7 linked regions of the Homo sapiens genome follow. The protein of the gene in region 6 purifies or fractionates together with the protein of the main gene of each other region. This does not show direct contact. Each region holds a gene or a part of one and is shown on either strand. Other genes may lie near its edges.

Region 1 (3,500 bases), on a different chromosome or scaffold from region 6:
GGCTGAGGTGGGAGAATCACTTGAACCTGGGGAGACTGCAGTGAGCCGAAATCATGCCATTGCACTCCAACCTGGGCCACAGAGTAAGACTCCGTCTCAAAAAAAAAAAAAAAAAAAAAGTGTGTGTGTGTGTGTGTGTGTATATATACATATATATAATTTATTACAGTCATATGGTCCTGTGCCCAGATGTCCCTCTCATCAAACTCTGGGAACACTAAGTCAGGTGTCTCGAGAGAAGGCTCCAGTCTCTGCCGAATTCCTGAAGGGTAGAGTCAGGTGCCTTGCAGCCTCCTCGTCCCCACGCCCAGAGCAGCCTCTCCTAGCTCAAGAATTCGCTGTGGTTCCTGGGAAGAAGAGAGGGGTGAGTATTCAAAGCCAGTTTCCTCTGAGAGGCAGGGCTGTGGGGAAGGCCACCCCAAAGGGACCTGAGCAAAGCCATGGCCACGGGCACAGTGAGCGAGGGTCTCCTTGGAATTCCTAGGGAGCCAGGGCTGGGGAGGGCAAACAGTGCTGGTGGCCCCGCTGGGGGACGCCCGTCTCCTGCCCTGTCCCCAGTTTTCTCTCTGCAAACTGCTCCTGACAGAGGAAAACAGCGTTGCCAAGCAGACCTGGCGTGCCTCGCCCCAGGAGGAACCCTGAGAACGATATCACCTAAGACAGATAAGAGGGCCTCTCAGAGTTGAGGATTGAGGACAAATGAGTCCAGGCTGCCAGTGCTGCTCAAAGCAGCCGGCCCAGGAGAAAGAACATTGGTCTCTTGGGCCTCCATTCTGGCCCCCAACTCAGAGGTCTCAACAGCTGCTTTTGACTCATCTGGAAAGACCAGGAAGGCCGAATAGCTCCCCGGGGAAACTAAACTCCTTAGATGGCTCCTGGAGGCTCTTGCCAGAGATGCGCAGATCTCCCACAGTGCGGGCAGGGGCTCATGGGCCACCTGGTCCCAGGCAGCACTTCGTCTTCCAAAGGGAGGGTCCCGGGGCCAGGAAGTCCTGGCAGGAGAGGACATCCTCTCCCCAAGCAAGGTTGAAAGGGGGCACAATGGCATTCCTAGAAAGTCTCCTAATGCCAACAGAGCAGCACAGGCCTGTGCTCTCTGCCCTGCCACCCAGCAGGGTGAGGAGGGTGTACCCAGCAAGCACTCCTCAGCTGGGGCAGAACTCACAGCAGGTTTAATCCTGCACTCTCCGACATCCCCACCACAGGAAAGACTCCCAGGCAACCGGCTCTCACTCTTGGCCCTCCCAAGGAGCAAGGGAAGCATCAAGGGCCACTGGAATGCAAGGTCCATTTAGGAGAAGCCGCGCCCTCCACTGCTGCCCTCAATTCCTGAAAAAGGTCCTCGCTGAAAAACTTCTGACCCCTAGAGACTTTTTTTCTCTTTTTGAGTTAGAGTCTCACTCTGTCACCCAGGCTGGAGTGCAGTGGCGCCATCATAGTTCACTGCAGCCTCAAACTCTTGGGCTCAAGCGATCCTCCTACGATCCCATGTAATTGGGACAACAGGTGCACACCACGATGCCCAGCTAATTTTTTTTTTTTTTTTTGAAATGGAGTCTCGCTCTGTCGCCCAGGCTGGAGTGCAGTGGCGCGATCTCGGCTCACTGCCAGCTCTGCCTCCCGGGTTCACACCATTCTCCTGCCTCAGCCTCCCGAGCAGCTGGGACTACAGGTGCCCACCACCATGCCCAGCTAATTTTTTGTATTTTTAGTAGAGACATGTTTTCACTGTGCTAGCCAGGATGGTCTCGATCTCCTGACCTCGTGATCCGCCTGCCTCGGCCTCCCAAAGTGCTGGAATTACAGGCGTGAGACACCGCGCCTGGCTGATGCCCAGCTAATTTTTTAAAAAAATTTTTGTAGAGACGCGATCTCACTGTTGCCCAGGCTGGTCTTGAACTCCTGGGTTCAAGCAATCCTCCCTCCTCCACCTCCCAAAGCACTGGGATTACAGGCATGAGCCAAAATGCCCAGCCAGAGACTTTAAAATATCACAAATTCATGAGCCGTCAGCTGATTTCCAGAGAAGACAAATTCCCTAAACCCATCAGGCACTTCCAAAAGGCCCAAGTGCCCACCCAAAGGCCTGGGACAGACGGATGCCTCTTATGCTTCATGGAAGTTGAGTCCACCCTCACTGGGTGCCTGCTGTGTGGCAGGCCACACGTGCTAGTGACCTTTCTCATCTTCTCATCTGTGAAAACAAAGCTCAGCACGGGTCAGTGACCACACTAGGGTCACACAGCAAGGACTCGGCAAAGAACGAGTCAAAACTACACCTGAAGCCTAGAAAGACACTAAAAATCTTTTTTTAAAAATTATTATTATTATTAGTTTGAGACGGAGTCTTGCTCTGTCACCAGGCTGGAGTGCAGTGGCGCGATCTCGGCTCACTGCAACCTCCGCCTCCTGGGTTCCAGCGATTCTCCTGCCTCAGCCTCCTGAGTAGCTGGGATTACAGGCACGCACCACCACGCCCAGCTAATTTTTGTATTTTTAGTAGAGATGGGGTTTCACCATCTTGGCCAGGATGGTCTCGATCTCCTGACCTCATGATCCGTCTGCCTCGGTCTCCCAAAGTGCTGGGATTACAGGCGTGAGACACAGAGCCCGGCCTAATTTTTTTTTATTTTTTGTTTTTAAAGAGATGAAGGATAGAAGGATGAAGGATGAAGATAAAAGGACTGGCAGGGGCCGGGTGCAGTGGCTCATGCCTGTAATCCCAGCACTTTGAGAGGCTGAGGCAGGCAGATCACTTGAAGTCAGGAGTTCAAGACCAGCCTGGCCAACATGATGAAACCCTGTCTCTACAAAAAATACAAAAATACAAAAATTAGCTGGGCCTGGTGGTGCCTGCCTGCAATCCCAGCTACTCAGGATGCTGAGGCAGGAGAACTGCTTGAACCTGGGAGGCAGAGGTTGCAGTGAGCTGAGATCACGCCACTGTGCTCCATCCTGGGCGACAGAGGAGACTTCGTCTCAAAGAAAAAAAAAGAAAAGGACTGTCAGGCAGGAGGGATAATTTTTTGCTCTCTTTTTTTTTGAGACAGTCTCACTCTATTGCCCAGGCTGGAGTGCAATCGCACGATCTCGGCTCACTGCAACCTCTGCCTCCTGGGTTCAAGCGATTCTCCTGCCTCAGCCTCCTGAGTAGCTGGGATTACAGGCGCTCACCACCACGCCTGGCTAATTTTGCATTTTTAAGTAGAGACCGGTTTCACTGTGTGGGCAAGGCTAGTCTCGAACTCCTGACCTTGTGATCCGCCTGCTTCCGCCTCCCAAAGTGTTGGGATTACAGGCATAAGCCACCTTGCCCGGCCTAATTTTTTGCTCTCTAATTTTACACTTTCTACAATGTTTCCTTTTTCCCACTATGGGCTCCTATTGCCTTTTCTATTTTTTAAATGAACAGCGATCACCTGGGATTATGGGCCATTTTTTGTTTGTTTGTTTGTTTTGAGATGGAGTTTTGCTCTTGTTGCTCAGGCTGGAGTGCAATG
Region 2 (3,500 bases), on a different chromosome or scaffold from region 6:
ATATGGTTTGGCTTACACCACATATATATTTTTTTCAAGATAGGGTTTTGTTCTGTCAGCCAGGCTAGAGTATACAGGCATGATCACAGCTCACTGTAACCTCACACTCTTGGGCTAAAGCAATCCTCCTGTCTCAGCCTCCCAAGTAGCTGGGACTACAGACATGTGCTACCACGTGCAGCTAATTTTTTTTTTTCTTTTTGGAGTCTTACTGTGTCACCCAGGCTGGAGTGCAGTGGTGTGATCTCGGCTTCGGCTCACTGCAACCTCCGCCTCCCAGGTTCAAGTGATTCTCCTGCCTTAGCCTCCCAGGTAGGTGAGATTACAGGCATGCGCCACCACGTCCGGCTAATTTTGTATTTTTAGTAGAGACGGGGTTTCACCATGTTGGCCAGGCTGGTTTCGAACTCCTAACCTCAGGTGATCCACCCACCTCAGCCTCCCAAAGTACTGGGATTATAGGCATGAGCCACTGCTCCTGGCCCTATTTTTTGTATAGATGGAGTCTTGCTATGTTGCCCAAGCTGGTCTCAAAATTCCTGGCCTCAACTGATCCTCCTACCTCAGCTTCCCAAAGCACTGGCATTATAGGTGAGCCACTGCTCCTGGCCTCCCTACCAATTCTTTGTTTTGTTGTTTGTTTTTGAGACCGAGTTTCACTCTTGTTGCCCAGGCTGGAGTGCAATGGCGTGATCTCGGCTCACTGCAACCTCTGCCTCCCAGGTTCAAGCGATTCTCCTGCCTCAGCCTCCCAGGTAGCTGAGATTATAGGCATGCGCCACCACGCCCGGCTAATTTTGTATTTTTAGTAGAGACGGGATTTCACCATGTTGGCCAGGCTGGTTTCGAACTCCTAACCTCAGGTGATCCACCCACCTCGGCATCCCAAAGTGCTGGGATTACAAGCATGAGCCACCACGCCCAGCCTTCTTCCCACCAATTCTTAATGAAAAATTAGTTGAGCAAATTTTCCATATGATGGGTGCCAAAACCACTGCTCCCAAATCAGCTGCAGACAAGAGCAGAGATTTCAAAAGAAATTTTAAACAAGTGGAATCAAGGTCCTAAAGCATTTCTTTGAAGAACTGTAACAGAAGATGAAACATGGTTTTACCAGTTTGATCATAAAGACAAAGCACAATTAAACCAATGGCTACCAAGAGGTGGAAGTGGTCCAGTCAAAGCAAAAGTTGACCAGTCAAGAGCAAAGGCAACAGCAACAGGTTTTTTGGATGCTCAAGGCACTTCACTTGTTGACTTTCTGGAAGGCCAAAGAGTAGTATCTGCTTATTATGAGAGTGTCTGAAGAAAGTTAGCCAAAGCTTTAGTAGAAATTTCTACAAAAAAAATTCTGCTAGAATTCTAATTGGGATTGCAATGATTCTGTAGATCACTGTAGGGAGAAAACATTGAGTTGCCTAAAATATTGGTATGCCTCTCCACTCTACTGGATTTTATAACATATAAGGCCATAGTATTTAAAACAAGCTAGTATTGGTGTACAAATACAGAAACAGAATAGAAGAGGTCCAGAGACAGACTTGAATGTATATGGAAAATAAGTATACAATTAAAGTTGCGTTAAAGTCCAATAGAGAAAACACGGATTATCAACATATGGTATTAAGACAATTAGTCAACATAAGATAAAACACCAACATATGGTATTAAGACAATTATGTTATTAAGACAATTATTCAGACATCTGAAAAAAATTTTAGTTCCCTATTCACTCCTTATACCAAATAAAATTTCACAGGGTCAAAGATTTTAATATAACAAATTGAAACTACAAATAAGAAAACATGGAAGTTGTTTTTTTTCTTTTTTTTTTTTTTTTTGAGACAGAGTCTTGCTCTGTCACCCAGGCTGGAATGCAGAGGCATGATCTCAGCTCACTGCAACCTCCACCTCCTGGGTTCAAGCGATTTTCCTGCCTCAGCCTCCCAAATAGCTGGGATTACAGGCGTGCACCACCATATCTGGCTAATTTTTTTATATTTTTAGTAGAGACGGAGTTTCACCATGTTGGCCAGGCTGGTCTCAAACTCCCGACCTCAAGTGGTCAGCCCGCCTCCGCCTCCCAAAGTGTTGGGATTACAGAAGTGAGCCACTGCACCCAGCCTAGAATTTTAAAAAAACGTAATGCGCAGAAGGCCAAAAAGTAAATAAATAAGACAAGTGACATATGACAATCTGGAAACATATTTGTAAACATAATATGGCAGACATAGAGCTAATTTCCTCAATATATGAGGTTTAATAAATTAAGAAGAAACAGAAGAACGTAATATGATAAGGGAACAATGTAATACAATAAGGGTACAACGTACACGAAGAGACAAATTTACAAAAAGAGAAAAGTCTCATACCTTGCTGGAAGGCATCGCAAAGTAGAATAACTTTAAAAAAATTTTGTTCCCTTTATGAGACAGTTGGTACTAAATGACCCAAATCATTACTAATTCACAAGCTATTCAATTTTCCAGTTAAAAATAGATACATGCCTGGCTGGGCGTGGTGGCTCACATCTGTAATCCCAGCACTTTGGGAGCCCAAGGTGGGTGAATCACGAGGTCAGGAGATCGAGACCATACTGGCTAACATGGTGAAACCCTGTCTCTAATAAAAATACAAAAACAAAATTAGCTGGGCGTGGTGTCGGGCACCTGTAGTCCCAGCTACTCGGGAGGCTGAGGCAGCAGAATGGCGTGAACCCAGGAGGCAGAGCTTGCAGTGTGCCAAGATCGCGCCACTGCACTCCAGCCCCAGCCACAGAGTGAGACTCAGTCTCAAAAAAAAAAAAAAAATTGATACATGCCTACACATTTATCATAGATCTACGGCCTAAATACATTTGTTGCCACAATGGTTACAGTACATAGCTGTATATTTCTGGTGGCCCAAAATTTGAATCCTTTTCCTAAGTTTGTGGCGTGTCTTTCTTATTGGTAAAGGTTTTATCAAACTTCCTTGCAGCCAGGGAAGAATGACTTTTACTGCAGCACTTAACAGCAAAAGCATGCAAACAATGTACTAAATGCCCACACAGTAACATGTCAAATTGATCATGGGGCATCCCTACAATGTATGATGGGCTACTATGCTGTGTTACAATGAACAAGGCAAAGTACTTCCTACTGATGCAGTGTTTCTGGTGGATACATCTATTTGTTAACTCTGCAATTCCACTTCTAAGAATTTATGGGACAGATATACTCACATATACATGCAAAGATAAGTAGAATGACACTGCAAAACTACAACAGCAAAAATGTGAAAACAAACTATAATTATCCATCACACAGGAACTTGTTAAATCAATTATGCAATACACACAATGGGATACAATGCTGTGTTAAAATGAACAAGGCAATGTACTTCCTACTGATTCCAAACAACCTCCAAGATACATTGTTTTTAAAAAAGGGGAAGGTAGTAGCAGAGGTTCCCAACAGAGTGTATATAAAATAATCAAAGTATATAAACAAAGTATGAGG
Region 3 (4,125 bases), on a different chromosome or scaffold from region 6:
AAACATTTATACAATCTGTATTATTAACTGTTAGTGAGAGGATCTGACAGAAAACATAAAGACCTACAAAAATACCAAAGAGTACAAAGCAAACACCTGACTTAATAGTTGAGAAGTTTGTTTATGGACCATACACAACCCTTCTTCTTTCTGGGTTGGGGATTAGAGGGGAAGCAGGTTTCAAATTAAGGAGCTACTCTATTAAAAATAAAAACCCAGGTGGGGCACGGTGGCTCACGCCTATAATCCCAGCACTTTGGGAAGCCAAGGCGGGCGGATCACAGGGTCAGGAGATCGAGACCATCCTGGCTAACACGGTGAAACCCCGTCTCTACTAAAAATACAAAAAACAAAATTAGCCAGGCGTGGTGGTGGGCGCCTGTAGTCCCAGCTACTCGGGAGGCTGAGGCAAAAGAATGGCGTGAACCCGGGAGGCAGAGCTTGCAGTGAGCCGAGATGGCCCCACTGCACTCCAGCCTGGGCGACAGAGCGAGACTCCGTCTCAAAAATAAATAAATAAATAAATAAATAAATAAATACCCTGTCACTTTTACTTTATCCTATTTCATGCTTATAATGCAGCATGAGTTGTTCTGGTCCCCTAATACTTTTATAGGAAAGGTAAAAAATCCCCTCTCAACAAACTAAAAATAGAGATTTATTAAAAATAAATAAAACTGCAGCTTATTAAGAAGATATGTGTGACTAGATATTTCAGCATCTGAGCTGGAATGTGAAAGGTGGAAGGAACCCTATTCAGCAAATTCTAAACAGCAAAAACGCAACACCAGGCCTGAGGAAATACCAAAATCTCAAGCAAAGCATCCAACATCTGGCAGCGTCTATTCCAGTGTAGAAGCAGCAGTTACTGTGAAACACCAGACACTTCTGATGGAAGCGCTCAGTTTCTGACTCACCTCCCGCCCCCCCACCCGACACACATACACACACTTTCTCCCCTACACACAATCTACTGCTTTTCTTGTGAGCCTCCTCAGCCCTCCCTCAATCTTCATTCGTTTTTAACTATTAATACGCTGAGCTCTCTACATTAACCTGGCTCCATTCTCCAAATTCCAATCTCCTGATACAGCGTAAGCATTCTTCCAGTCCATTTTTCTATTATGCAATACTCCCCCACAACACTTACAGTCACCCCCCCACCCATCTTTCTTCTTCTCAGGCCTAATTTCCAAAACATCACTTCTCGCAGTCTCTACTGCAATTCAAGACTCCATTCCATCTTTCCCATCTGTTTTTAAGGTCTTTGACCTTAATTTCCTACATTCCTTAGACTCTCTTCAAAATTTCCATTCCTTCCCAAAGTTGGGCAGTTTAGAGTTGGGAATCACCAAAGGAATTAGTCTGAGAAAGTATGTATGTGTGTCTGTGTGCCTGTGCGGCCCTAAGGGTGGGGGTGCGAAGTGAGAAGGGGTGACACATTAGGGGGGAGTATCTGAGGGAAAAGATGGCTTCAACAACTCCCGCCCACCCAACAAAATTCACGATTCCCTACCTCTCCAGAAATCGAAAGCGTCCAATAACTTTTCGATATCTTTTAAGTCCCATGGCTTCTCTTCAACATTTTCATCCAATTAGCCCACAATCAACTTAGATTCCACCTGCCTCTCACACTAAGTAGTTCTCTCTACTTCTTAGGCCTCCATTTACTTTCTTAGTTTCTCTACTCCCTTCCGTTTCTCTTGTTTCCTACCGCAACTTCTTTTTTTTTTTTTTTGAGACAGGGTCTCACTCTCTCGCCCAGACTGGAGAGCAGTGGCCCAATCTCGGCTCACCGCAAGCTCTGCCTCCCAGGCTCAAGGGATTATCCTGCCTCAGCCTCCCAAGTAGCTGGGATTACAGATGCACGCCACTACTGTCCGGATAATTTTTGTATTTTTAGTAGGGACGAGATTTCTCTATGTTGGCCAGGCTCGTCTCGAACTTCTGACCTCAAATGATCCGCCCGCCAAGGCCTCCCAAAGTGCTGAGATTACAGGCGTGAGCCACCGCGCCGGGCCACCCTACCCCCACCTTCAATCTCCATCCGTCCTCCTCAAAGACAACCAAAGTTTTCGACAACTTCTTAATCAAACTTATCCTTTCCTCAAACTCCTGCCCGCTCATAAATCCCTATTTGAAAGCCCAGCTCGCGCCCACTTACCGGTAACACGTAGGACATTCCCAGCTACAGGTACCCTCTTAGGTCTCGCTCTTCCTCCCATCGCATATTCCTCACCAGCTCCCTACCCACGCCCTGCCGGGCTTACCTGAGGACAAGGTACAGGAAGGGACCGCGGGATCAAAGGATGAAAAACCGACCGAAGACGACGGCCCGGAGGAGGCCGACGCCATCTTAGCAGCCCCCTCCCCCTCAGCGGCCTGGCTCTCTTTCAATCCGGTTCTTCCTCTTCTCGGAATCGAATCTTCCCAACGTCTCTTTACAGAACCCGCGTTCTGTGGGCCACCTCCCCGCCCCCTCCGGGGCCTCCCTCAGACACGTCGAGCCGGCTCCTGGACCAGCTCAAGGCCACACCATTCGCCTGGCATGGGGAAGAACTCACGTCCCGCACCCCCTCCACAAGTTTAACCGCTTTCCACAGGGGATACTTTCCCCTTTCACAGAAGAGTAAGCTTAAGCTGGCTGCTGGGACCTTGCGCCCAGACCAAGCCACATCTGAAAAAAAAACGAGGCATGAAAAGTCCCAAAGGAGCGAACGCCCCTTCTCCGTCCTTCCTAACCACGGCCTGTTAATCGCCCAACCCGGCCGCTTCACTCCGGGTAGCCAAGCAAAAAATCCGAGCACTGCGCATGCGCCCGACCTTCTCGGGGCATCAGCCCACTCATTGGGGAGAAAAAAGGAGCAAAACCAATCGGGAGGCTGCTAATGGTCACGTGAGGTGGGTCCTCACGCCCTGACGAGTCCACGGGTGGAAGATGTGCGCGCGCGGGTTGGCCGACAGTCCCTACGGTGGCTCGGCAGGTCCTCTTAGGTTCAGTTCTTTGCTAGGACTGGGTCGAGTGATCTGAACTCGGGACAAGAGTCGGTCCGCCAAGTCCTCTGAAATTCCTAACCCAGGAAAGAACTCTCTGCGGGAGTACTGGTGTCAAGTCAGAGACGTTAAGGTGTCGAATATCACAAAACATTTAATACCACCAAGAACTCTTCTTAGTCTTTTTCCTGTTTTACTACTCTTGTTTACTATTTGATTAAACGTGCGTGCATGTCTTACCTTCCTCGGAATGGCATTCGAAATAGATCTGTGTTTTGTTTGCCTCAAGCACAAAGTTAGGCACTGCACAGTGACGGAGTTCAGTAAATATTTGATGCATGAATCAGTGAAGACCTGTCAAAAAAGGGCACGGGAGGCTATCAGGGACTTATCACAACCTTCCCGCGACCCAACCCCTTTAGCCTCCAACTGTCAATTATCTGTGCTCCAAAGGGCATGGAGATACACAGAAAAATTTCTCCCATTGTAGTCTTCGTAGTAACTGCTCGTTTTTAACAAAGTACCCCGTAGGCTATGAACCCTGGTGGGAAGACCAGTCTCTCTGAGCAGACTGTAAAACTTCTGGGGAGCAAGGACTGTGTTTGGTTCACTCTTGTATCTCCAGCTCCTCCAGTGACTTCGTACATAGTAGGGGCTCCATAATTATCTGTGGAATGAATAAATAAAGAGGAATGGTAAAACATTCGGGGTAAGAGTCGGTCAGATAGATCCTCTCAAACTCATGGCCCATGAAATAACTCCATTAAAACAGGTTTTGTGGCCGGGCGCGGTGGCTCACGCCTGTAATCCCAGCACTCTGGGAGGCCGAGGCGGGTGGATCACGAGGCCAGGAGATCGAGACCATCCTGGCTAACACGGTGAAACCCCGTCTCTACTAAAAATACAAAAAATTAGCCGGGCGTGGTGGCGGGCGCCTGTAGTCCCAGGCTACTCGGGAGCCTGGGGCAGGAGAATGGCATGAACCTGGGAGGCGGAGCTTGCAGTGAGCGGAGATCGCGCCACTGCACTCTAGCCTGGACGACAGAGCGAAACTGTCTCAAAACAAAACAAAACAAACAAACAAAAAAAACAGGTTTTGTAACCCCCAGAATGACCTGGTTATCCTCTTTC
Region 4 (3,500 bases), on a different chromosome or scaffold from region 6:
TTTACTATGCTACAATACCAGTCTACTTCAAAAGTGCTTATCTGTTGCTCACTCTGTCTTTAAAACTTTTGAATGCCAACAAATCAGAAGGTGAGGGTATACCTCCATCAAAGTCATAAATTTCAAGGAGATTTGCAGGACATTTCTCATGTATCTTTTTAGGAATGAAGGCAGTACCATAATTTTACATTAATTTCGATAATTGTATTTAAGATGATACTCTCTAAAAACAACACAAGCATCTGCTGAGAGCCATTACTATTACTTATAAAGACCACAGACTTCCTATCTCGCATCTGAGCACAGTTGGAAACCATGTCTTCAAAAGACAAAGAAAAAATGTATTTTATACATAAAACAACTTACCCATACATGAGAAATTTCTTAACAATATTTCTCGAATATTTGGCTTTACTTAACTCAACCAAATCATCTGAAAAACAAAAATACATTACAGTGACTTCAGATCTCATTTCAGTTCTCTGGAAACAAAGGGAGGAAATTTGTCCCAGGCAAGGAAAAAATAAAAACAAAAAAGGATCTGGAGAAGACAAACCTAAACAAAAATTGTTTTCTAGGACAGTCTTGGGTATTTTAAGAGAAAACAAGTGACTTATTGCAAATGATAACATAATCTTTAGTATGTAATAAATACCTCGCAATTCTTCAAAAGCCTGTTTTCTCTGTTCTTCATTACCATACTGAATGTAACACTGGATCACACGAGTTGAATCGTGTGCAAATGCAATCTGCAGGAAAAAGTTTGAGTTAGACTAATTCTCTTTTGAGACTTATGTTTCTCACTAATTTATTGTGACCTCTTCTGGAATTTCTTGTTAGAAAAAAAGGTAGTCTTCATGAATAAAATCAAACCTAGATTACTGAGAACTACTTGTTTTAATTATACAAAACATCATTCTGTTGTTTTGAGGCCTACCATATTTGATAGGTACAATAATGACATTGAGGCAAGGATAAATTTAACCATTTTGCAAGACTCCTCTCATTGCAATTAAAACCAAAGCAAACCAAACCATCTGATGATTATACAGACTATACTTCTCATTTCTTTGATAAGTTACCGTCCCTAAAAGGGAAATATTTCTGTTTAAAAGGTCTGTTACTGTATGATTTTTATATAAGTGATCTAAGAATGTTTGGCTTTGGCAACCAGAAGTATACCTGTAAGATCAATCTAAAAGTCTTCCTAAAGAAATAAATACAACTATGTCCATAAACACTGTCAATTATATAATAAGTTAATCATCCATTTGTCACATTTTCATTATAATTCCTGCACATATATCCAGTTATATTTCTAGAAGAGTTGTTGTGTTTTGAATCTGATTCTCTAACCCATTCCTCCTCATGACTGTTGGAAGGACCCACTGACCAATTTTCTAGAGCGCCCTCCACGAATCATCCATCATGCAAAATTATTTTCACTACGCCACAGTACCAGTCTACTTCAAAAGTGCTTATTTGTTGCTCACTCTAAAGTTTCTGAATTCCAACAAATCAGGTGAGTGTATACTTCCATCAAAGTCATAAATTTCAAGATTTGTAAGACATCTCTTAAGTATCTCTTAAAAAAATAAGGCTGTTTTTGTGCATATATTGAGCACCTATTATATAATCAACATAAATGCCTTAAACATAGTGTTCTTATTTATAACTCAAAGCAACAATAAGAATGAGCTGTTACTATTCCCACTTTACAGATGAGGGAAGTAAGGTTATGAGAAGGAACTCGCTATCTCTATTACCCCGAGGAAGAATCTTACTTCCCTGAGTCCCAGATACATCAAATATACAACACGGATGATGACATACAGTAAACGACACAATGCATGTGCTGGTTAACACAATTCCTAGCCTATAGTAAATAATCAATAAAGAAGTTATTGTTATTGTTTAAAGGCACACATATTTTAAGCAGCCCAGCCAGGATTTGAATACCAAACTCACTTCTAACACCATGGTCATACAGCTGTGACCTCAGGGTAGTTGAGAAAGAATCCTGAGTGAAATATTTATAAATTGTCGGAGCTGAGGGGGCAGTCCTATCGTAAAAAGATCCTGCTGAATTTATAAGAAAGCGGCAGCTGATGACTTGCTACTTTCCTTCAAACTGTAATATAGCATCTGGTTAGACCTATGCATCTGACTTGACAAAGGCTGCCCCTCCAGGTGCCGTAAAACTATGAGAATCTGTTGTCTTCCAAGCCATTATGTATTAATCCAAATACACAAGAGTCACAGGAAATTTATTACAAAACAGGATTAAGCAGCAACAATGAAAACTACTTTAGAATTCTGAAATGATTATATTTTAGTTAAAGATCTTCGCATGATGTTTACAAAAGCATGGAGGAAAAGAATGAAGTAATATGTTCACATCACAAATATAAAGAAGTTGGCAATTGAGAACATACTAAATTATATGGAGTTTAGAACAACACATTTATAAAATACTACTGAACTAATAAACTTCTCAAGATAACTTTAAGGAAACACTGGCTTATTTTAAGAATTATTAAAAAATGACTGAAAAGACTGATAATCTTTTCAAAACTCCCTAGCAGTAAGGTCCCTCACTTTTAAATTTTTATGTAGTTCAGTGTTATGGAAGATATTTAAAACTTTTGGCCAAATACACCGGAAACAATGATAAGATCATCTGTCATGAATGGTCAGCTACTCCTGAGAGTGAGGCAACTTCAACTGTTAAAAATTGCAACAATGAGTATATGCTACTTACAGTTTTAATTTTCCCTTGAATCAACTTCTGCAAATCACTCATTAACTTTACTCTTTTTTCTTTGTCACAGTCTTTTCTACAAATGAGGAGAGGAAGGAAACACAGTTGAAATAAAGAAGTTATTTTAAACACACAAAATTAAAAACTGTACCAGTATATGTTCTCCAAGTTCAGCATGATTTTCTTTTCTAAGGCAGCAAACCTCTGCCATTAAAATTACTATTCCAGAGCAGCCAGACAAAAGTAATTTTCTCAAAGGCAGAAACTCATCTCAAAAGGTATAATTTTAGGTATCAATCCAAATCTTAACAGCCAGAACTTCAGAAGTAAAAAAAATAATAAAACAAATCTAAGATAACAAATACTGAAGTATCTCAAAATCTAGCTGATAAGAAATTGTCCTTCATTTTCTCAGAAATCTCTCAGGAAGAATGTCAAATTTATTTCAACCTCATACATTTTCATAAGCATATCCGATGCCATCATAATGATTCTACACACTTCTGTGACGGGCAGACTTCCAAGTACTGATGTCTCTAATGGGGTGTCATGAGGACCCCCTCAATAACCCAAGTGCTATGTCATTTATTTTAGGACATCTCACTATTTACAAGGTACACTGACTTCTCCACTGTTGCAAAGGGACTAACAAAGGCATCTTTAGGTAGAATTACCTTCTTAAAATCTCCCACATCTGCTTTGCCCGAACAACAATGTCATAGTTGGTTTTATCACTGAG
Region 5 (3,284 bases), on a different chromosome or scaffold from region 6:
TGCTTAAGTACGGGAGGTCAAGGCTGTAGTGAGCCATGATTGCACCACTGCACTCCAGCCGAACTGACAGAGTGAGACCCTATCTCAAAACAAAAAAATAATCTATTGTCATCCCTTGATATCCACGGTGTATTGGTTCCAGGATCCCTCTCACATAGCAAACAGTATATATATATCTGCAGATGCTGAAGTCCCTTATATAAAATGGCACATTTGCATGAATGTATATTGTTATATATAATAAATTTTTTTATTGTCATATTATTTGTTGTTTTCAAGTATTTTCTATCTGCAGTTGATTGAATCCTCTGATACTGAACTCACGGATTTGGGGAGCTGACTGTACATACTATGTGATGTCATAAATTTTTCTTCTCTCAGTAACAACCCATTACTACATTTCCTTTCAGTTTTTCCTTGTGCTGCCATTTTTATAGTTGAACTTGTCTCTGTGAACTTAAATTATATTTACATCTTATTTTATGTTGTTTTCTGTTATGTAAGCATGTTCCATTGAGTGATATAACAGAGTTTATACTGTCATTTCTCTCATGTTGGACCTTGGTAGAATTCTCTGTTTTTCCCTGTAATAATGAAATTGCAGTGGTTATGTGTTTTTTGTTTTTGAGACAGAGTCTCACTCTGTTGCTCAGGCTGGAGTGCTTTGGCACGATCTCAGCTCACTGCAGCCTCTGCCTCCCAGGCTCTAGCGATCCTCCCATCTCAGCTTCCTGAGTAGCTAGGACTACAGGTGTGTGCCACATGTCTGGCTAATTCTTGTATTTTTTTGTAGAGACAGGATTCACCATGTTTCTCAGGCTGGTCTCCAACTTCTGAGCTCAAGTGATCTATCCGCCTTGGCCTCCCAGAGTGCTAGGATTATAGGTGTGAGCTACCCCGCCTGGCCTGGTTATGTTTTTTTCCCCAAAAGTTTGGATTGTAGATTACTTAAGATAGATCCCCATTAGGATATACTAGGTTAAGATGTGTTACCATTTTGAAGACTCTTGATGAGAATTGCCTGGTAGCTTTTTTAGAAAGATTGTCACAGCGTTTGTTGCCATTGTTACTGTATTGTAGTTACCTTTCTGCTTGTCTGCTCCCTTTCTTCTATTACTTGATAAGCTTCTAAAGTCCTTTAACAAACATCTCATGGATATTCAGGGTTGTTAGCATTAATGGCTCTATATTGGAACAGAAGTATAACAGAATTTTGGATCTAAATGGAACCCTAGAGGGTGTCTAGTCCAACATCTCGTAATGGAGCGTTCCCTGCCCTCTGGTCAGCTAATACAATGGGGCTTTGACAGAAAGATGGCTATACGAAGGAGGTTTATTCGTTTAAAATATTGCATATGGGGGCCAGGCGCGGTGGCTCATGCCTGTAATCCCAGCACTTTGGGAGGGCAAGGTGGGCAGATTACAAGGTCAAGAGATCGAGACCATTCTGGCTAACGTGGTGAAACCCTGTCTCTACTAAAAATACAAAAATTAGCTGGGTATGTTGGCCCGCGCCTGTAATCCCAGCTACTTGAGAGGTTGAGGCAAGAGAATCGCTTGAACTCAGGAGGTAGAGGTCACAGTGAGCCGAGATCGTGCCACTGCACTCCAGCCTGGCAACAGAGCGAGATTCCGTCTCAAAAAAAGAAAAAAGAAAAAAAGCCAATATTGCATATGACTAATCTAGTCTAGAACCTCATTTTACAATGAAAAAAAAAAACCACGAAGCCTGTAGCATTGTGACTTAGCTGAACATTTCACAAGGCAGCTTGAGTGCTTTCTGAGGAAACACTGGTGACGAGCATGGTGATGAGGAGACTTCGAGTGCAGCAGCTGATACACCTGGGATTGGATGGGGCTTATCTGTGCAAGCTTGAAAGTCGTTCTCATCTGTTAAAGTGACACTTTCACTAGTTTCTTTGCAGATGGGTTTCTGGTAGCAATTAATGTATTGTGTTTTCTTTTGCAGAATACAGATTCTGTTCATCTTGCTCTGAAATTAAATAATTCTGAACTCATGGGGAGAAAACTCAGAGTCATGCGTTCTGTTAATAAAGAAAAATTTAAACAACAAAATTCAAATCCACGATTGAAGAATGTCAGTAAACCTAAGCAGGGACTTAATTTTACTTCCAAAACTGCAGAAGGACATCCTAAAAGCTTATTTATTGGAGAAAAAGCTGTTCTCCTTAAAACGAAGAAGAAAGGACAGAAGAAAAGTGGACGCCCTAAGAAACAGAGAAAACAGAAATAACAACCAGGAACTGCTTTTTCTTTTCCTGCTGAGTACTGCTAATAAAAGTGCTATTATCTGCTGATAGCATCGTCTGCTATTCATGTGTTGAGTTTTATACTTCTTTATGGATGGTGTATGTGAAATGTGGAGACTTCCACATTCTCAGTTTATTCACATTGTGATACTACCTTTGAAGGTTTTTTTGTTTTTGTTTTGTTTTTTGAGATGGAGTTTGGCTGTTGTCTCCCAGGCTGGAGTGCAGTGGCGTGATCTTGGCTCACTGCAACCTCTGCCTTCTGGGTTCAAGCGCTTCTCCTGCCTCAGCCTCCCAAGTAGCTGGGATTACAGGCGCCTGCCACCACGCCTGGCTAATTTTTTGTATTTTTAGTAGAGACGGGGTTTCACCATGTTGGCCAGGCTGGTCTCGAACTCCTGACCTCAGGTGATCCACCTGCCTTGGCCTCTCAAAGTGCTGGGATTACAGGCGTGAGTCACTGCACCCAAGCCTCCTTTCTCTTTTGCCTATTAAACCTCTGCTCTTAACCTTACTCCGTGTGTGCTCAAGTTCTTGATTTCCTTGGCATGAAGCAATGAACCTTGGGTATTACCCCAAACGATGTCGCTTCAGTATCTCACTTTGTTGCCCAGGCTGCTCTCAAACTGCTGGACTCAAGTGATCCTCCCACCTTGGCCTCCCAAAGTGCTAGGATTACAGGAGTGAATCACTCATCAATTCCAAGGGGCTAGAACTCCCAGGAACTGGGGACAAAGGCCAGCCAAATTCTTTATTATGCAACCTCGTGTTACTGGAAAAGGATCCAGATCCAGACCCCAACAAAGGGTTCTTGGATCTTGCCTAAGAAAGAATTTGGGGCCAGTCCACAGAGTAAAGTGAAAACAAGTTTATTAAGAAAATAAAGAAGATCACTCACGGTGGCTCATGCCTGTAATCCCAGCACTTCGGGAGGCCGAGGTGGGTGGATCACCAGATGTCAGGAGTTTGAGACTAGCCTGGCCAACATGGTGAAACCCCATCTCTACTAAAAAT
Region 6 (3,500 bases):
TAAGTTAATCTCTCTAGTAGTCTGAGACTAACAATTCCCTTGGTGTGAAAGTGGCAACGTGCTTATAATGGAAGCATGTCTTAGTTTTTGGAAGTTACATTTTGAAGTGCTTTTTTTTACGTGTCATGGTGCTTGCAACTTTCTATCAAATATTTTAGAAAAAGAGTTGCCTCTACTTACTGTCTCTAATTCTTCTCTTCCCATTCTTCCTTCAAACCATACTACTTTCATCCCCCATCATCCCACAAAAACCATTCAATATCACCAGTGAGCTTCACACTGCTAAATCCAATGGTCATTCTCAGCCTGTATTTTATTGACCCATATTCTCACTGAAATGCCTTCTTTATTGGCAGGCTGAATACCCCGCAATTCTGAATTTCCTCCTGCTTCTCTGATAGCCTCTCCAGCTGCTCGGAATGGTCCAGGCTCATGTCCTCTACCTCTAGATGTTAGAGTGCTCCAAGGATCAGCTTTTGAACCTTTCTTTTTTACCTATATTCACTACCTTGTTGTTCTTATTCACTTTCAGAGATTTATACAATGAAGATTCTCTAATTTATATCTCTACCAGCCCTGTACTCTTAACTGTATAACCAACTGATTCCTTGGCATGTCTATTTAGGTATCAATGGGCATCTTGAACTTAATGTATGAAAAAAAAAATTCTTGATGCTCCCTTGCAAACATGTTCCATCCACAAGCTTCATTATCTGAAAATTACTCCAACAGCCATTTGATTGATCTCCCCAATTTGGTCCTTGCCCCCCACTTTAATCTACTTATCTATAGCAGCAAGAATGATCCTGTTAAATATAAAAGTCAGATTTGACTGCTCCTGAGCTCAAAACTCTCCAGTGGTTTCTCATCTCAGTCACAGAAATTCATGTCTTTATAATGGCCTACAAGGCTTTCATGTCTGGCCCCAAACTACCTCTCTGATCTCAGTTACTTCTGTCCTCCACTGTAGTCATACTGTTCTCCTTGGATTCCTCAAACACAAGAGACAAAGTATAGCTTCAAGGATACTCCTATGCTACTTCCTCTGCTCACACAGTCTTCCTGGGCCAGGCTCACTCCCTGACCTCTACTTTCTTTAGTTCCTGGTCAAATATGTTTCTTATATATCTGTCATCTGTTTAGTTTCTCCTTCACCGGAGTATAAGATCTGTGAGTTCAGGGATTTTTATGTTTTGTTCACACAGTGTATAGAATAATTCCCGGCACAGAGTAGGTATTCAGTAAGTATTTGATGGAGTAAGGAAGAGAAGTTGGGGTTCTGTAGAGTGCTGAGTAGAAAAAAGACCAGCTATCCATTTCACTAATATCTATTAGGCCAGAGATAGCTAAGAAAAACAGGACTTTTACCATAATCAAAAATTTAAGATTATAAACAAACATGCCATTATTTATTTCTGGATGGAATTTCATATATATTGTTTATATTCAGCTTGCATTATCTACAAAAAATATTATGTAGATTAACTGGACTATTAATACAGGGGAAGTTATATAAAGAGTTAAAACTGATTACACTTCATTTATACGTGTATTAGAAATTCCTCAACGAGGTACATTTCTTGATGAAGGCCCAACTGGCTAATTATATGCATCACCTTATCTACTCCTTAGTAAGTTGGCAGGATACCTTTAGCAACGCATTGAGATAGGAAATACAACTTCACATACATCAAAATAATTAAGTATAACTTTCTTTAAAAATTTTATAATTCAACATTTTTACTTATTTATAATCCTAATTAATAAAATTGTATTATTACATTTCCATAGGAACTAAAATATTGATAGAAAGAGTAGCTCATTCCAGTTGTTATGCCCACAAACCTGTTATCAGTTCCCTTAATACTTACCCTTAAGAAATTAAACTCCTCATGTTACTATACTGTATAACCCAATGTAAAAAGGTAGAACGTTTAAATAGTCTAAACTAGAATTTCTTCTGAAAAATCAAACCAAACCACAATAAATGTTAGTGATTAAGAGTACTTATTTTCCTGAAGAGGTTAATATTTTGGAGAGTCAAGCCACAGAACCAATGAATGATACGGTATAATCTCATACTGACCCTCCGTGGTTTACTGAAGCATAACATCAAAAAAGTCCTGAGGTTCAGGGTAACTGTTACAGAAAACACACATTTCTTAAGACATAAATTCACTGAAATACACGTCATGAAAGTACTTTGTAGTTTATAACGTTTGTAAGTATCTCTAAGCAAGAAAGTGGTATTATTAGTTCCAATTTCCATATGAATAAACTGAGGTACAGAAAGATTGCTCAATGATCTTATATGTATAGCACACAGAAAAACCCTTTACACTTGCATGTGCATGCGTGCATGTACATAAGGATTCACAGATAACAATACCTCATTAGGGGCCTTCAAAATATTACAGTTTAAGACCTTTGAAACTCATACATTAAAATATCAATTTTCCCCTATTCAATTAAAAGTAAAAAATATATACCCAATGTTGACGATAATTCCGTGAAACTGACACTCTTACTGATTGTTGAAGGTATTATAAGCTGGTACAACACTTCCAGAAAGCAATTTGGCAATAACTTCAAGACACAAAAAGTATTCATGCCCTTTCTTAGTAACTCTATTTCTGGGAAACTATCCTATGAAAATAATTCAAAATATGGAAAAAGCTATAGGTTATTTATAACATCCCAGATACTTGGCATCTGGGATTTAACATTTGAGGTTTTGACACTGGTAGTTTTAACAGCTTGTGAGAGAACCACAGGTTGATCTACAGCACATGTAGAGTTGCTGTGTGAGCAAGGAAGTCACGTAACTAACTAGTGAGTTAAGCCTGAATGCTAGGCATCAGCTTCTCATTGTGGCCTGGTTGTTCTCTACTAGTCCTGACATGCTTGGAAACATTTCTAGGCTGGGAGAGATGAAAAACACACCTCTGTTTTAAAAGTTTTTAAAATTAAAAGGCCCTAAAAAGGCAAGCCAATTACTTGGCTGCTCATGAAAATGAAGAAATTTAAGAAAAGCTTGTTATTTGTGGGTTTGAGATCTGTCCTATTTTTTTTTCAATGTTATAAGTCCACTGTAGTGAAAGATTAGAAATCTGATTGCATATTCAACAACAGAGAAATGGTAAATTAAACTGTAATCTTCTTAACCAGTGGTTGAATTAGGATAGTGGAATTACAGATGATAATCTTTCATTTTACATTTTCACTTCATAAGGTCAACATTACCCTAATACCAAAAACCAATACGAGGAATGAAAACTACAGATCATATTCCTCTTTGCCACAAGTACAAATATTTTTAATAAAATATTACTAAATTAAGCTGGGAATATATAAAAAGATAAGGTACCATGACCAAGGTGGGGTTTATCTGAGGAAATATAAGCAATGCTTATAACTTCCAGTTACAGATAACAGGTGTAAATACCACTTTTAGGTATTTGCCCTACATTACTATGTTTTGTTTGTTTGTTTGTTTGAGA
Region 7 (3,500 bases), on a different chromosome or scaffold from region 6:
ACACCATTGAGAAATGGTTTTAAAATTGTAGAACTACCACAATGCTAGGGTTTGAATGTCCCCTCCAAAACTCATGTGGAAACTTAATCCCTGATGTGGCAACACTCAGATGTGGGGCCTTCTAGGACGTGACTGGATCACCAGGGTTTTGCCCTCATGAATGGCAGTTGCATTTATGGATTAATGGGTTATCATCAGTGGGGGAATGGTGGCTCTTAAGAAGAGCAAGAGACACCTGAGCCAGCATCTTAGCATGCTCAGCCCTTTCACCATGTGATGCCCTGCACCACCTTGGGACTCTGCGGAATCCCCACTGGTAAGAAGGCCCCTCGACCTTGGACTTCTCAGCCTCCATAACTGTATTCCTTTTAAGTCACCCAGCTTCAGATATTCTGTTATAAGTAACAGAAAAAAGACTAGGACATATATACTGAATAATTTACCACACCAGATACTGTGCCTAAGCCAAGGGTTCTGGGTGCAACCATCACAGGTCAGCCACCAGCTTCACTGAGCACCGCCCAAAAGGTCAGCAAGACTCACGAGAAAGGATAATGGCTTCTTGCTCCTCTCAGGCACAATACTCGTCTTTCCTGGATACTACTGAAGAGCAGTACCTCACACAACAAAAGCTGACTAGGTAGCCTAGATTTAAGGTTTGTGAACACTAAGTGAAAATAAAAAGCAATAGTCCTACTCTCAAAGTACTCTCACATTATTTCTAAAAATCTTGGTGACATTTTGATTAAGTTAAATTTAATTCTTACTGACCTGATCTCTTATCCTCTGTTTAATGATATCTTCCAGTTGAAGGGTGGTTTCCTCTGTAATCACAGGTGCTAAAGGATATACAACGTTTATTCATTAGGTAGATATCCACTAGACCATTGATTCAGTGCAGTCCTTGGACCCACAGCATCAGCAACACGTGGGAACTTGTTAGAAATGCAAATTCCTGGGCCACCCCCATACTTCCTGAATCAGAAAGTGGGGAAGAGGGACAGCTATCTGTGCTTTAACAAGCCTTGTGATGCTCCCTGAAGTTTGAAAACCACAAAACTAGGATACATATGGTAGTAAGTGCTAATACTTTACCCAAGGTACCCAGGGACTCTTCCCCTCTTTTCCATTCTCTCTTCCATTGAAATAAAATGAAAACTCATTTTGATGTAATGGGTACAAGAAAGAAGTCAATGAGATGACCACAGTTTCAGGTTGAAGTTCAAAATTTAATCAGTGGACCATGACAGGATGCAAGCCTTCAAAACAGATTACTACAAGAAAGCTGATTACAAACTATACATTAGGTATCATTAGCGTATTGTTAAATTTTTTGGGTGGATTAATGGTACTGTGATTACATAGGAGAATGTCCTAGTTCTTAGACGATATCTGCAAAAGTACTTAAAAGTGAAGTGCCATGAGATTGGCAACTTACTTAAAAAAAGGGCACATATACAATCTTACATATGCTAGGGAGAGAAAGCAAATATAACAAAATGGTAACTGGTGAATCCAATTGAATAGCATATAGGTGTTCACTGTAGTATTTTTTCAACTCTTCTGTGTTTATAAGTTGATTTTTTCTTTTTTGACAGAGTGTCGCTCTGTTGCCCAGGCTGCCCACGCTGGAGCACACTGGCACAACCTTGGCTCACTGCAACCTCCCCTTTCTGGGTTCAAGCAATTCTCCTGCCTCAGCCTTCCGAGTAGATGGGATTCTGAAATCTGCCACCGTATCTGGCTGATTTTTGTATTTTTAGTAGAGACGGGGTTTCACCATGTTGGCCAGGCTGGTCTCAAACTCCTGACCTCAGGTGATCCGTCTGCCTCGGCCTCCCAAAGTGCCGGGATTACAGGTGTGAGCTACCATGCCAAGCCATGTGTTTACAAGTTTTTAAAATAAAAAGTTGAGGGAAAAGAAACACCACCCCAAATCTTTGTATGAAATGGAACCATGGAAAAAGCACAGACATGAAAACTACAGAAGAGGGCACCATACCCATCCGGACAGCATGGTCAAAGTGTAGGGTCTCCTCCAGGAGGCTGTTCTCTGGCCTCTTCTGTGCTGTCACTTCCCCCTGAAGCTGCCACGGCTTTTTTTCTAACAACTCTTTTTCTAAAGATGCAATTTTTTCATTCATCTAAGAAAGAGATAAAATAACTAGTATACATTTAGAAAATAAAATCTTATATTTGTGTAAAAGCAAAAAATAATTTAAAAAGTGGGAAAGCAAGAAACGTACTGTTCTACGATTCTGTTCTTGCCATCTTTTTATTCTGTCGATGACTTCCTATTTCTGCTGCCTATGGTGGGGTGAGCTGCAAACAATTTCTTTTCCTGATTAATTTAAAATGCCATGTTTATAATATACTAAACGCCCCCAGAAGCTTTTGAGTTTGTTTCTGGGCTCTATTCTATTCAAGTGATCTATCTATTCGCAAGTCAAGTAATTCTTTGATTAGAATATTAGTATCTGATGGAGTCTGACCCTTTTGACTCCAAACTCAAATTCTTACTCTAACTTCTTTTTTTAAAATTTTTTTGAAGCAGAGTCTCGCTCTGTCGCCTAGGCTGGAGTGCAGTGGTGTGATCTCAGCTCACTGCAACCTCCGTCTCCTGAGCAATTCTCCTGCCTCAGCCTCCCGAGTAGCTGGAATTACAGGCGTGTGCCACCACGCCCGGCTAATTTTTGTATTTTTTAGTAGAGACGGGGTTTCACCAAGTGCTGGGATTACAGGCGTGAGCCACCATGCCTGGCCATTATCTCTAACTTTTAAAAGACAACAATGATGACTTCAGTGTATAAAATGCCAGCCTTTTCAGCTACCTTACAGAATTCTCTTATTTTCCTAATATCAATTCAGTTTATCCATTCGGTTTCCTCTCCAAATACCAACACTTTCATTTTTCACTCTTAGTGGAATATAAATACATCTGCAGTATTCCTAATCTTTTTTTTTTTTTTTTTTTTTTGAGACAGTCTCGCTCAGTTGCCTAGGCTGGAGAGCAGTTGCGTGATCTCAGCTCACTGCAACCTCCACCTCCTAGGCTCAAGCAATCCTCTTACCTTGGACTCCCAAATAACTGGGACCACAGGCGCGTGCAACCACGCCTGACTAATTTTTGTATTTTTTGTAGAGACGAGGTCTTACCATGTTGCCCAGGCTGGTCTCGAACTCCTGAGCTCAAGCAATCCTCCTGCCTTGGTCTCCCAAAGTGTTGGGATTACAGGCATGAGCCACCGCACCTGGCAGTTTTCCTCATCTCTTATCTTTATCTTTTGTAGTTACACTGGCCTATGCGTCTAAAAGAATGTTAATCAACAGTGGTAATTGTAATACTGGACATCTTGTCTTATTCCTGATCTTAAAGGGATGTTTCTAGAATGATGCATGCATCATGCATGATGGCAGTTTTTGGCTTAAATGTATTTATATTCCGCTAGGAGTGAAAAAAAAAATTAGAAATGAATATTGAATTTTATCAAATGTCTTTC

The links.
Region 1: the proteins of ESF1 (region 6) and LLGL2 purify together in Homo sapiens (co-immunoprecipitation; one large-scale study listed by IntAct). This does not show direct contact.
Region 2: the proteins of ESF1 (region 6) and DDX52 fractionate together in Homo sapiens (co-fractionation; one large-scale study listed by BioGRID). This does not show direct contact.
Region 3: the proteins of ESF1 (region 6) and PIP5K1A purify together in Homo sapiens (co-immunoprecipitation; one large-scale study listed by IntAct). This does not show direct contact.
Region 4: the proteins of ESF1 (region 6) and PUM3 fractionate together in Homo sapiens (co-fractionation; one large-scale study listed by BioGRID). This does not show direct contact.
Region 5: the proteins of ESF1 (region 6) and RBM34 purify together in Homo sapiens (co-immunoprecipitation; one large-scale study listed by IntAct). This does not show direct contact.
Region 7: the proteins of ESF1 (region 6) and MPHOSPH10 fractionate together in Homo sapiens (co-fractionation; one large-scale study listed by BioGRID). This does not show direct contact.

What each region holds. Positions count from the first base shown.
Region 1 is NC_000017.11:75,528,697-75,532,196, reverse strand, and holds part of LLGL2 (LLGL scribble cell polarity complex component 2), read right to left. Parts: intron 1,135-3,500; exon of another isoform or gene 1-1,134. UniProt on the Homo sapiens protein: Part of a complex with GPSM2/LGN, PRKCI/aPKC and PARD6B/Par-6, which may ensure the correct organization and orientation of bipolar spindles for normal cell division.
Region 2 is NC_000017.11:37,636,947-37,640,446, forward strand, and holds part of DDX52 (probable ATP-dependent RNA helicase DDX52), read right to left. Parts: intron 2,623-3,500; exon of another isoform or gene 2,508-2,622; intron 1-2,507.
Region 3 is NC_000001.11:151,197,227-151,201,351, reverse strand, and holds the start of PIP5K1A (phosphatidylinositol 4-phosphate 5-kinase type-1 alpha), read right to left. Parts: upstream 2,801-4,125; 5' UTR 2,356-2,800; coding exon 2,271-2,355; exon of another isoform or gene 2,226-2,270; coding exon of another isoform or gene 2,165-2,225; intron 1-2,164. UniProt on the Homo sapiens protein: Catalyzes the phosphorylation of phosphatidylinositol 4-phosphate (PtdIns(4)P/PI4P) to form phosphatidylinositol 4,5-bisphosphate (PtdIns(4,5)P2/PIP2), a lipid second messenger that regulates several cellular processes such as signal transduction, vesicle trafficking, actin cytoskeleton dynamics, cell adhesion, and cell motility.
Region 4 is NC_000009.12:2,830,596-2,834,095, forward strand, and holds part of PUM3 (pumilio homolog 3), read right to left. Parts: coding exon 3,436-3,500; intron 2,838-3,435; coding exon 2,762-2,837; intron 750-2,761; coding exon 656-749; intron 434-655; coding exon 367-433; intron 1-366. UniProt on the Homo sapiens protein: Inhibits the poly(ADP-ribosyl)ation activity of PARP1 and the degradation of PARP1 by CASP3 following genotoxic stress. Binds to double-stranded RNA or DNA without sequence specificity. Involved in development of the eye and of primordial germ cells.
Region 5 is NC_000001.11:235,130,683-235,133,966, reverse strand, and holds the end of RBM34 (RNA-binding protein 34), read left to right. Parts: intron 1-1,969; coding exon 1,970-2,254; 3' UTR 2,255-2,784; downstream 2,785-3,284.
Region 6 is NC_000020.11:13,753,920-13,757,419, forward strand, and holds part of ESF1 (ESF1 homolog), read right to left. Parts: intron 1-3,500. UniProt on the Homo sapiens protein: May constitute a novel regulatory system for basal transcription. Negatively regulates ABT1.
Region 7 is NC_000002.12:71,137,134-71,140,633, reverse strand, and holds part of MPHOSPH10 (U3 small nucleolar ribonucleoprotein protein MPP10), read right to left. Parts: intron 2,145-3,500; coding exon 2,003-2,144; intron 840-2,002; coding exon 772-839; intron 1-771. UniProt on the Homo sapiens protein: Component of the 60-80S U3 small nucleolar ribonucleoprotein (U3 snoRNP). Required for the early cleavages during pre-18S ribosomal RNA processing. Part of the small subunit (SSU) processome, first precursor of the small eukaryotic ribosomal subunit.